3 linked regions of the Homo sapiens genome follow. The protein of the gene in region 2 purifies or fractionates together with the protein of the main gene of each other region. This does not show direct contact. Each region holds a gene or a part of one and is shown on either strand. Other genes may lie near its edges.

The links.
Region 1: the proteins of ELAVL3 (region 2) and RO60 purify together in Homo sapiens (affinity purification with mass spectrometry, with the first as the bait; one large-scale study listed by BioGRID). This does not show direct contact.
Region 3: the proteins of ELAVL3 (region 2) and CRTAP purify together in Homo sapiens (affinity purification with mass spectrometry, with the first as the bait; one large-scale study listed by BioGRID). This does not show direct contact.

Annotation. Positions count from the first base shown.
Region 1 is NC_000001.11:193,076,461-193,080,111, reverse strand, and holds part of RO60 (RNA-binding protein RO60), read right to left. Parts: intron 3,612-3,651; coding exon 3,465-3,611; intron 3,200-3,464; coding exon 3,062-3,199; intron 1-3,061. UniProt on the Homo sapiens protein: RNA-binding protein that binds to misfolded non-coding RNAs, pre-5S rRNA, and several small cytoplasmic RNA molecules known as Y RNAs.
Region 2 is NC_000019.10:11,478,871-11,482,621, reverse strand, and holds the start of ELAVL3 (ELAV-like protein 3), read left to right. Parts: upstream 1-1,575; 5' UTR 1,576-2,013; coding exon 2,014-2,022; intron 2,023-3,751. UniProt on the Homo sapiens protein: RNA-binding protein that binds to AU-rich element (ARE) sequences of target mRNAs, including VEGF mRNA. May also bind poly-A tracts via RRM 3. May be involved in neuronal differentiation and maintenance.
Region 3 is NC_000003.12:33,134,424-33,138,074, forward strand, and holds part of CRTAP (cartilage-associated protein isoform 1 precursor), read left to right. Parts: intron 1-3,651. UniProt on the Homo sapiens protein: Necessary for efficient 3-hydroxylation of fibrillar collagen prolyl residues.

The sequences.
Region 1 (3,651 bases), on a different chromosome or scaffold from region 2:
TTGCCCAGGGTGGAGTGCAACGGCACAATCTCAGCTCACTGTAACCTCCACCTCCTGGGTTCAAGAGATTCTCCTGCCTCAACCTCATGAGTAGCTGGGATTACAGGCGCCCGCCACCACACTCAGCTAATTTTTTTTTTTTTTTTTTTTAGAGACGGGGTATCACCATGTTGGCCAGGCTGGTCTCGAACTCCTGACCTCAGGTGATCAACCCTTATCGGCCTCCCAAAGTGCTGGGATTACAGGCGTGAGCCACTGCACCTGGCCCTTTTCATGTTTTTATTACTCATTTGTATATCATTAGAAAAATGTCTATTCAAGTACTTTGCCCATTTTTAAATTGGGTTTGTACTTTTGCTGAATTTGTAGTTTTCAGTATTCTGGATATTAGGCCCTTATCGGACATATGGTCTGCAAATATTTTCTCCCATTGTGTAGATTATCTTTTAACTGTCTTGATAGTATCCTTTAATATACAAAATGTTTAAGTTTGATGAAGTTCAATTTATTTTTTCTTTTGCTGCCTGTGTTTTTGGTGTTTTCTAGTTTTAGCTCTTAAATTTAGTCACTGATCCACTTTGAACTAATTCTTGTATTTGGTGTAAGATAATGGTCCAACTTCATTCTTTTGTATGTGGATATGCAGTTTTCCCAATACCATTTGTTGAAGATTGTCCTTTCCCCAGTGAATCATCTTGGCACCCTTATCAAAAGTCAACAGACATCCAGATGCAGTGGTTCACGCCTGTAATCCCAGCACTTTGGGAGGCCAAGGTGGGCGGATCACTTGAGGCAAGGAGTTCAAGAACAGACTGGCCAACACAGTGAAACCCTGTCCCTACTAAAAATGGAATAAATTAGTTGAGTGTGGTGGCGCATGCCTGTAATCCCAGCTACTTGGGAGGCTGAGGCATAAGAATCACTTGAACCCAGGAGGCGGAGGTTGCAGTGAGCTGATATTGCACCACTGCACTCCAAACTGGGTGGCACAGTGAGACTCTGTCTCAAAAAAAAAAAAAAAAAAAAAAAAGTCAACTGAACATATATGCAAGGTTTTATCTCTGGACTTTCTATTTCATTGGTCTATATGTTTATTCTTTTGCCAGTGCCACACTGTTTTGATTACTGCAGCTTTGTAGTAACTGAAAGAGTTACTGAAGAGTCCTCCAGGTTTGTTCTTTTTTTAAAGATTGTTTTGGCTATTTGGGGTCACTTGAAATTTCTTAGGAATTTTAGAATGGGTTTTTCTATCTCTGTAAAACATGCCATTGGGATTTTGAAAGGGACTGCATTCAATCTGTAGATTGGCTGCTTTGGATAGTATTGTCATCTTAACAATATTAAGTCTTCCAATCTGTAAACACAGATGTGTTTCTATTTATTCATGACTTAATTTCTTTTAGCAATGTTTTGTAGTTCTCAGTGTATAAGTCTTACAGCTTCTTAAATTTACTCCTGTCTTTTATTTTTTGATGATCTTGTAAATGGAAATGTTTTCTTAATTTCTTTTTTTGGATTGTTCATTGCTAGTATATAGAAATACAACTGATTTTTATGTGTTGGTTTTATACCCTGTAACTTTGCTGAATTCATTTGTTAACTTTAGGGTTTTCTAAATACAAGATCATGGCATCTGAGGATAATTTTACTTCTTTCTTTCCAATTGCAATGTCTTTCATTATTTCATTTTCTTGCCTTATTACTACAACTTCCAATACTATGTGGAATTAAAGTGGAAAAACTGGGCATCCTTGTCTTTTTCTTGATTTTAGGGGAAAATCTTACAATCACTCACCATTATGACATTAGCTATGGGGTTTAAACATCTTTGTTTTTTAAATCTCTGGACTTTATCATGTTGAGGAAGTTCATTTCAGGTTTAGTGGTTTTATTTTTCATCATGAAGGAATGTTGAAATTTGTGAAATGCTTTTTCTGCATCAGTAAGATGATTATGTGGTTTTTGTCACTTCATTCTACTAATGTGATGTATTACATTGATTGGTTGTCATATGTTGTACTATCTTTGTATGCCAGGGATGAATATCACTTGGTTATAGTATGTAATCCTTCTATTTTGCTGCTGACTTTGGTTGCTAGTATTTTGTTATATAGCAAGATGTTTTAGCTTGTGTCTTTGATGTGAGATTTCCATTACTAAAAAACTCATTTTTTATCAAGACTGATGAGATCTATCTACCAATTAATGGGGAAAACAGAGGACCAAGTCAAAGGACCTGACAGGAATGCAAATTTCTAAAGTTAGTGATATGGGTTGGATTTGTGTCTCCACACCAATCTTATGTTCACTGTAATCCCCAATGTTGAAGGTGGGACCTTCTGGGAGGTGACTGGATCATGGGGGCAGTTTCTAATAGTTTAGCACCATATTCCCCCTTCTGCCAAGATTGTTGATATGGTTTGGCTGTGTCCCCACCCAAATCTCATCTTGAATTGTAGTTCCCATAATCCCCACATGTTCAAGGGTGGGACCAGGTAGAGATAATTGAATCATGGGGGCGATTTCCCCTATACTGTTCTTGTGATAGTGAATGAGTTCTCACGAGATCTGATGGTTTTATAAGGAGCTTCCCCCCTTATGCTCATCACTTCTTCCTGCTGCCATGTGAAGAAGGACGTGTTTGCTTCCCCTTCTGCCATGATTGTAAGTTTCCCAAGGCATCCTCAGAAGCAGGGCAGTAGCCACTGTGCTTCCTCTACAACCTGTGGAACCATGAGCCGATTAAACCTCTCTTCTTTATAAACTACTCAGTCTCAGGTATTTCTTTATAGCACTGTGAGAACAAACTAATACAGTTAGTAACTTAAAAGTTACCAAAATGATCTTAGAATAATTAGTTGCTACCCAAAGGTAAAGAGAAATACTTTACTCTTAAACTTACACGATATTAATTATATACTCACCACATATGAACTAAAGAAAAACAAATGAATACCTAATTAAAAAATGATTAAACTATTAATACTACCTTTAAAATGTATTATTACAAAAGATATTAAGTCTTCAGTCATTTGTTTTAAAACAAAAATCATATCACTACCTTAAATGTTTTATAAAAAGCAGCATCCAATGCTTTCAAAATTTCTTCATCAGGGCGCCACTTCAGTTTCCCTCTGAGACCATGACCTGTCTTGTAAGTTTCTAATGCGATCAAAATATGAAATGGATGTATACGAGCCTAGAAACAAAGTATAAGGAAAATTTTAGCAAAAAACAGTGATTATGTATACTCCTTAGATTTTTGTGTTATTGTAGCTAATAACTACATTTCATATAGAAAAGAGAAAAATGAAAATGTATTAAACTTACACTTAAGAGCCATAATGCAATTTGGTATAATGAACATCTCGAAATACCTTAAAAATGCACTGACGGCATTTCTAAAATTTAGGAGCCACTTTCTCAGTTAGTAGTAGCTAATAAAGAACAATGATAATGCTTACCTTTTTTAATAGTTTTTCATTACACAGTTTTTCACATACTAAAGATACTTCTGAATTTCCTGGTTCAAGTACTGAATTAGCAGTCATCTTTCCTAGATTCCTTAGTAATGCAGTAAGCGGCATTTCTTGTAACAAAGCCTTCCATACCTATTGCAATAACATAGGCAGAAATACCAGGAATTAAGGG
Region 2 (3,751 bases):
GCCCCAGCTATGCCTCAGTTCCTGCTGCGGACCGGGGGGCTACCCCAGCCGGGGACAGAAGAATCGGCAAGGATGAGCGAGTCCGGCCGCTGGGGCCGCCCCCGCGAGCTCCCTCCCCCCGCGAGGCAGGTCCCCTCCACTCTCCCCGCACTGCCGGAGCCGGCAGGTTTCCATGGGAACCGCAGCGGGGTCCGCGCGCCCAGGAGCAGCCCCCCTCCTAGCTCAGTTTCCGATGACGGAAACCGGGAGGAACACGGGGTGGGGAACAGACCATCGCTTGGGGCCCCTAGCGCCCGCAGCCAGGTCGCCCCGGCGAGCCCAAGAGGGGCCACCCGGGGATCTGCACCGCCACCGCCCCTATTGCGCGGGCCACTGCGATTGGCCTGCCCTTTCCAGGCGTGGCAGCATCCCCTGGTGCGCGCACTCCCATTGGCTCGATCTCTAGGGCATCTTCCAGTAACTGGTTATCTCAAGGGCCGCCCCTGATTGGGCAAATTAGGCTCTCCTCGCTGGTGGCGCTCTCTGACAGTCTGGAGCCTAAAGGGCGTGCAGGAACGAGGATTGGGTGGGGACTGCCGCTCTCCAGTTAGGGGGTCTGGGCTACCTCGCCGGCAGCGCCCTCGACCGGACTGTCGGATTGCTGTCTGTGGTGCTGAAGCCTCACGCCCTGGCGACCCCGCCCCAGTGTGTGCTAGTTCCCGCGCCCCGACGTAAACATGCACCGGCGCCCGCGCACCAAAGGAGGCTGCGCCACCCCCAACGCCTTAGAGAGAGGCCAGGTTCCCCCTAGCAGAGAGCGAGCATGACTCCACAGTCAGGAGGACCAATCACGAGCCTAGAAAGCCAGGACATTTATGTGGCAGATCCACCCACCCCAGTTCTGTGGGGTCCAAGAAGGATCCGTGGTTTCCCAGAGCTGCATGGCTCCAGCGATGATTGTCCAGAACACTGAGCCCCAAACCTTTTCACCCCCTTCGGAGCAGTGCGGAGTTTCCTTGCACTGGGGAGTGCCAGTCCTTACCTTTTGAACCCTAGAAGGATCCAGCTCACTCAAAACCAACAGCGTCCCAGTCTCCTTCTGCAGAAGACTAGGGCCACAGTAGCCACCCTCCCCCGTGGTCTTGAGGTGGTCTACACTGGTGCCTCCAAATCTGGGGACCCAGGCCTCTGCCTACTAAAATATTGGTTCCTGATCCCCTGTCCAGTTCCCTCAGTGGACAACACCTCTGGAAGGTCGCATATTCAGGCCACTAATACCTCCTCGCTCTGTTGGCTCCTCCAGCTCTAGGAGCTGGACGGAGGAGGGGAGCCCGTCTCCTGGCCCGAAAGCCAGCCCAAGAAGGGGTGCCAGGGTAGGAAGCAAGGGCCTCGAGGGAAGGAGGGCCCAAATCTGGCAACCCGAGCACCTAGGATGCGCTTTTGGGGGATTCAGAGTCCCGACCAGTGCGCGCTCACTTCCACCTGCCGCGCCGTCGGGAGCCGCGAGGAGGCGGAGCTCGGTCGCCGCAGCCAATGAGCGACGCCGGCGCTGGCAGCTGCTGCTATAAAGGGCTGGGGGCGGCGGCGGCGCGGTCCAGAGCGCGGAGCGCGCAGCGCGGGCCGGAGGGAGGGAGGGAGGGTGGGCGAGGGGAGAGGACTTGAACACACGGGACCGGACAGGACCGACCGAGGGGCGGCGGCGAAAGGCAGAGCGCCGCGATCTCTGTCGGGAAGCGCAACCTCCCCGGGCCCCGCGGGGCCGCGCAGGGGGCGTCCTCAACCCCGCGCCCGCTCCCTCTTTCCATCCCCTGCCGCCCGCAGGCCACCCCGGGGCCCGGCCATCCGCGCGCGCATCCCCGGGTTCGGGCCCGTCCCTGGCCCTCGAGGGAGCCGCCGCCTTCATCGCCACATCTGCAGCGGCCGCACCAGAGGCCGCCCGGGCGGGACCCCAGCGTGAGCATCGGGCGCCCCCCTAGGAGTGCACCACCCCCGGAGCCCCCCTCAACACGGACCGCGCCCGCCGGGCACACAAGAATGGTCACTGTAGGTATTCCCCTGTCGCCGAAAGGGAATCGGGACGGGGAGGAGTTGGGCCCAGGCTCCGCGGAGATTGGGCGGGTGCGGCGGGGGGGGTAGGACCAGGCCTAGCTAGGCCCGGGTTGGGGGGGTAGGACCAAGCCTCGGGGCCTGAGAGTGGGCAGGGCCGCGCCCAGAGTGCTGAGGGCGCTTAGAGCTTGGTCTGAGAGGGCCTTAGGGAGACTGACTGCGATTCGGGAGGCGTCCGACGCCGCCCTGGAGGCGGGATTGCCCCCTCTCCAGCAGGCCTGATGGGGGAGGGGCCGCGGCGGCTAAGGATGCTTCCTCCATCCAGGCCCAGACCCCGCAGGCCGCCCAGGCAAACGCAGGGCCCGATCACTGGTGCTGGGCCAAGCCAAAGCGACAAAGCGTCCCCGAGAGCCCTGGGAAAGCGGGTGGCGTCGGATCGCGCGCCCCGGGCCTCGGCCGCACCCGGGAGGCGGGCGTCTCGTCCTCGAGCCCGTCGACCTTGCGGCAAGCGGGGAGGGGAGAGGAGGGGGCGCGCCCGGAGGCCCCGCGGGCCCGCCGCCGCTGCTGCCGCGTCCCTTTGTTTCTCGGCGCTTCTTCGCGGGCCGCAGCCTCGCGCGGGCGCCTCGGGCTGCGGGGAGGGGGAGGGGAGAGGAGGGCCCGCGGGTTGGGGGGGCACCTCTGGGCTCCCGGGTCTCCGCCCCCCGGGAGATGGGGTGGGAGGCCGAGACAGCCCCCTTAGGCCAGGTCCAGGCTCCCCACCTCGCCAAGGCTCTGGGCCGCGAGGTGACCTTGAGCGCGGCCCGCCCGCCTGCTCGCCCGCACCGCTAGCCCCGCGCTCGGTGCTTTCAGCAGCCACGGAGCTGGTCAGCTCCCGAGCGCGCAGCCCCTCCCGCCCTGCCACGCCCTGCCTGGCCACGCCCGGGCACGCCCATCTAGGCCCCGCCCCCAGGGCCCCGGGGGCCCGGCCTCGCCCGAGCCCTCGGATTCCCACTCGGCAGCCCGGGCGTATCCCGGGGGCGGGGCTGGCCAGTTATAGCCCCACCCCGGCTCCACCCCCGCCCCTGCCGCGCGACTCCGCTCCCCGCGCCGCCGCGCGTCCTTTGTCTGGTCCCGGCGCCTGGGCCTCCCTCTTCCACTCTTCCTATCTCTCCGTCTCTGCGTGTGTGTCTCTGTGCATTGTGTCTCTTTCCGGGCCCCTTTTTCGAGTCGTGGCTAGCACTGGGGGTGGGGGCATGATTGGCGCTCCCTCCATGCCTAAGCCTCTCCCCTCCTGGACCCTGGGACCCGCCCACCTGGCTCTGAGAAATGAGGTCCCGGAGGCCTGGCTCACCTGCTGTGTGACCTCAGGCCGTTCCTTTCCCTCTCTGGGCCTCGTGCTGTTCACCCAGGTCTGGGAACTGGAGTGTGGCCTCCTGAGGACCTCAGAACTCCCGCAACAGTCCAGCATCTCCTAAGCGTCCTCTGATCGGTTCTCTCATTTGAAAAAGGAAACTAATGCACAAAGGGAAAGAGGGTGTGGTCAGAGGTCACACAAGGGCCTTGAGGACCTAGGTTCTCCAGTGAGCGAGCCCTGGGGCAGAGATGTATCATGGGGACAGGCTGGGAGGAAGAGAGGTGACAAATTAAGACCAGGAGGACCCTGCATTGAAGAAGGGCCCAGAAGTAGGAGGCTCAGTCAGCACCACGTGGTAGCCCAGCCTCACCATGCATAGCCACTCAATGCCCT
Region 3 (3,651 bases), on a different chromosome or scaffold from region 2:
TGGCATGGGAAAGAGCGGCTTTCTAGGAAACCTAGGCAGGAGTGCCACATTTCCTGATAGCGAAACGGGTGTGGGGCCACACTCCAGGAATTCACAGTGGTCATTCTTCATCTTTTCACTTTATATAAAAACAGTGAATTTTTAATTGCTCAGCACTCTGAAGAGACATGGATACTCACACCCCAATTTTTCTGCTAGACTATTGCTATTATTATTTTTTCTAAATTGCATCTTTACTGTAAGCATTTTGTCATTCTCTAGAATTGCTTGAAATTCCTGATTCCACCTTACTCAGCTGACCCCTTTTCTGACCCTGACTCAACTGGTTATGGAGTGGTCATTTTGTGATGAGTCTGGTCACAGAAAAGCCATCATTAGCGGTAGTATTTAGAGTATTTGTTTGGAACAAACTGGAAAATGCTTACTGAGAAAGCTGGGGACTTGTCAGCTATTGGAGCTCGAAGAGAGCTGTGAGCTTGCTCTGGTCTGATCCTTCGCTTTATAGATGAGGAGCATGGGGCCAGCAAGTTTCCTGAGCCTCCAGGTCTGCTCTTCCTATACCCGTTTTAGGTGAAGTACCTCTGAATAAGACATCTTCGTGGAATTTGTTTTCTGTCTATAAATATGTATGGGATGAACTCATCACTGGCATTAAACAACTGAGTCTCAGTTCTTTATCTATAAAATGGGAATAATAATACTGCCCTCCCAGGGTTGTGAGAATAAAATACTGTGTTGCATGTGGAAATGCTTTCTAAACTGGAAAGTGATGCAATGCCTATGTCTTGGTTTGGGTATCCTTGAAGCAGAGCCTGAGACAGGATCCCAAGATGCCACAGGGGCCATTCCCCCATTCCCTAAAGGAAGGAACACCAGCCAGATACCAACAAGATTGGCCACTGTGGTTTACAAAGTATAGCAGAGGCTGGGTGTAGTGGCTCACACCTGTGATCTCAGCATTTGGGAGGCCAAAGCAGGTGATTGCTTGAGACCAGGAGTTCAAGACCAGCCTGGGCAACATGGTAAAACCTCGTCTCTACAAAAAATACAAAAAAATTAGCTGGGTATGGTGGAGTGCACCCGTAGTCCTAGCTACTTGGAAGGCTGAAGGAGTCTGGGGAGTTTGAGGCTGATATTGCGCCATTGCACTCCAGACTCGGCAATTGGAGTAAGACCCTGCCTCAAAAAAAAAAAAAAGGAAAGTATAGAAAAATATATTTAGAAAAGGTAAGAGAAGTTGAGTTCCCAGTTATCTAGAGGCAAGCTAATATGGATATTTTGGTATATATCTTTCCATTTTTTTATTATTAAAGAAAAAATTTTATAGTTTTAAATTTGTTTTTCTACATATTTATTATAAACTCAGCTATAATTATGTCTCATGACTTTTTCACTTTATATTATTATGTGAGCAGTTTCTCTTGTTATATTTTTCTAAAACAGCTTTATTTAGATATTATTCACAAAAAATGAAATTCTCCTTTTTAAAGTATACAATTCAGTTGTACTTGTTATATCCACAAAATTTTGCATCCATCACTGTTATTTAACTTTAGAACATTTTTATTGCCCCCAAAAGAAACTCCATAGCTAAGTCACTTCCCATTTCTCCTCTGGGCCAACATTCCCACTCCTGCCTCCACCTCCAGCCCCTGGAAGACTCTAATCTACTTTCTGTTTCTGTGGATTTGCCTGTTGTGGACATTTCATATAAATGGAAATATAGGGTATGTGGTCTTTTGTGACTGGCTTCTTTCACTGAGCATATGTTTTCAAAGTTCAGCCATGTTGAACATGTTGCCTGTAAAATTTCCTCTGTACTACCAAGTAATATTCTTCTTTTGGATGTACCGCATTCTGTTTATCCATTCTTCAGTTGATGGATGTTTGGGTTGGTTCCACTTTTTGGCTATTTTGAATAATGATGCTATGACCATTTGTGTACAAATTTTTGTTTGAACATAAGCTTTCCAGTTTTTTATACCTAGGAGTATATACATAGGTATTATGTTAGGCCATTTTTGCATCACTGTAAAGAAATACCTGGCTGGGTGCAGTGGTTCATGCCTGTAATCCCAGCACTTTGGGAGGCCAAGGCAGGAGGATTGCTTGAGCCCAAGACTAGCCTGAGTAACATAGTGAGACTCTGTCTCTACAGAAAATTTAAAAGTTAGCTGGGCATGGTGGCACAGGAAGTGTGGCAATGGCATCTGCTTGGCTTCTGGTGAGGTCTCAGGAAGCTTATGGTCATGGCAAAGGGGGAGCTGGCGTATGTCACATGGCAAGAGCATGCCACACTCTTTTAAACAACTAGATCTTGTGTGAACTCAGAGTGAGAACTCACTTATTATCATGAGGACAGCACCAAGACATTTTTGAGGCATCCGCCCACCTGACCCAAATACCTTCCACCAGGCCCCACTTCCAACACCGGAGATTACATTTCAACATGAGATTTGGAGGGGACATATATCCAAACCATATCAGGTACATACCTAGGAATGGATTGCTGGGCCATATGGTAATGGTTTAACCTGTTGAGAAACTGCCAGACTGTTTTTCAAAGTGGCTGCACCATTTACATTCCCATCAGCAGTGTATGAGAGTTCCAACTTTGCAATATCTTCAACAAAACTTAATATTGTCTTTTTTTTTTAATAGCCATGCTAGTGGATGCAAGTAGTATTTCATTGTGGTTCTGACTTCCACTTTCTGTTGTTTTTCTTTTCTTTTTGAGACAGAGTTTTGCTCTTGTTGCCCAGGCTGGAGTGCAATGGTGCGATCTCGGCTCACTGCAACCTCCGCCTCCCAGGTTCAAGTGATTCCCTGCCTCAGCCATCCTAGTAGCTGGGATTACAGGCGCGCACCACCACACCCAGCTAATTTTTTGTATTGTTAGTTGAGATGGAGTTTCACTATGTTGGCCAGGCTGGTCTCAAACTCCTGACCTCAGGCGATCCACCCGCCTCAGCCTCCCAAAATGCTGGGATTACAGGCGTGAGCTACTGCACCCAGCTTGACTTGCACCTTCTTAGTGACTATGTTGAGCATCCCTTCATGATTGGCCATTTGTATATCTTTGAAGAAATGTCTATTCAAATCTTTTGTCCACTTTAAAATTGTTACTTATCTTTTTATTATTGTGTTGTAGAAGTTCTTTAGATATTCTAGTTATAAGTTCCTTATCAGATATATGAATTGTAGATATTTTCTCACAATTTGTGGGTTGTCTTTTCAGTTGCTAAATGGTGTCTTGAAGCACAAGTTTTCAAATTTGATGAAATTCAATTTATCTGTTCTTTCTTTTGTTGCTTTTGTGTTGTGTGTCATATCTAAGAAACCATTGCCTAATCCAAGGTCACAAAGATTTACTCCTGATTTTTACTCCTACGATTTTTGTAATTTTAACTCCTGCATTTAAATTTACAACCCATTTGAGTTAATTTTATGTGTGATATTAGGAAGAGGTCTAGTTTCATTCTCTTGCATGTGAATAGCCAGTTGTTACAGCACTATTTGTTGAAAAGACTTTTTCACCATTGAATTGTCTTGGTACCCTTTGAAAGAAATCAGTTGACCATAAATGTGAGAGTTAATTTTCCAGACTCTCAGTCTATACCACTCATCTTGATTTCTATCCTTAAAGTTAGT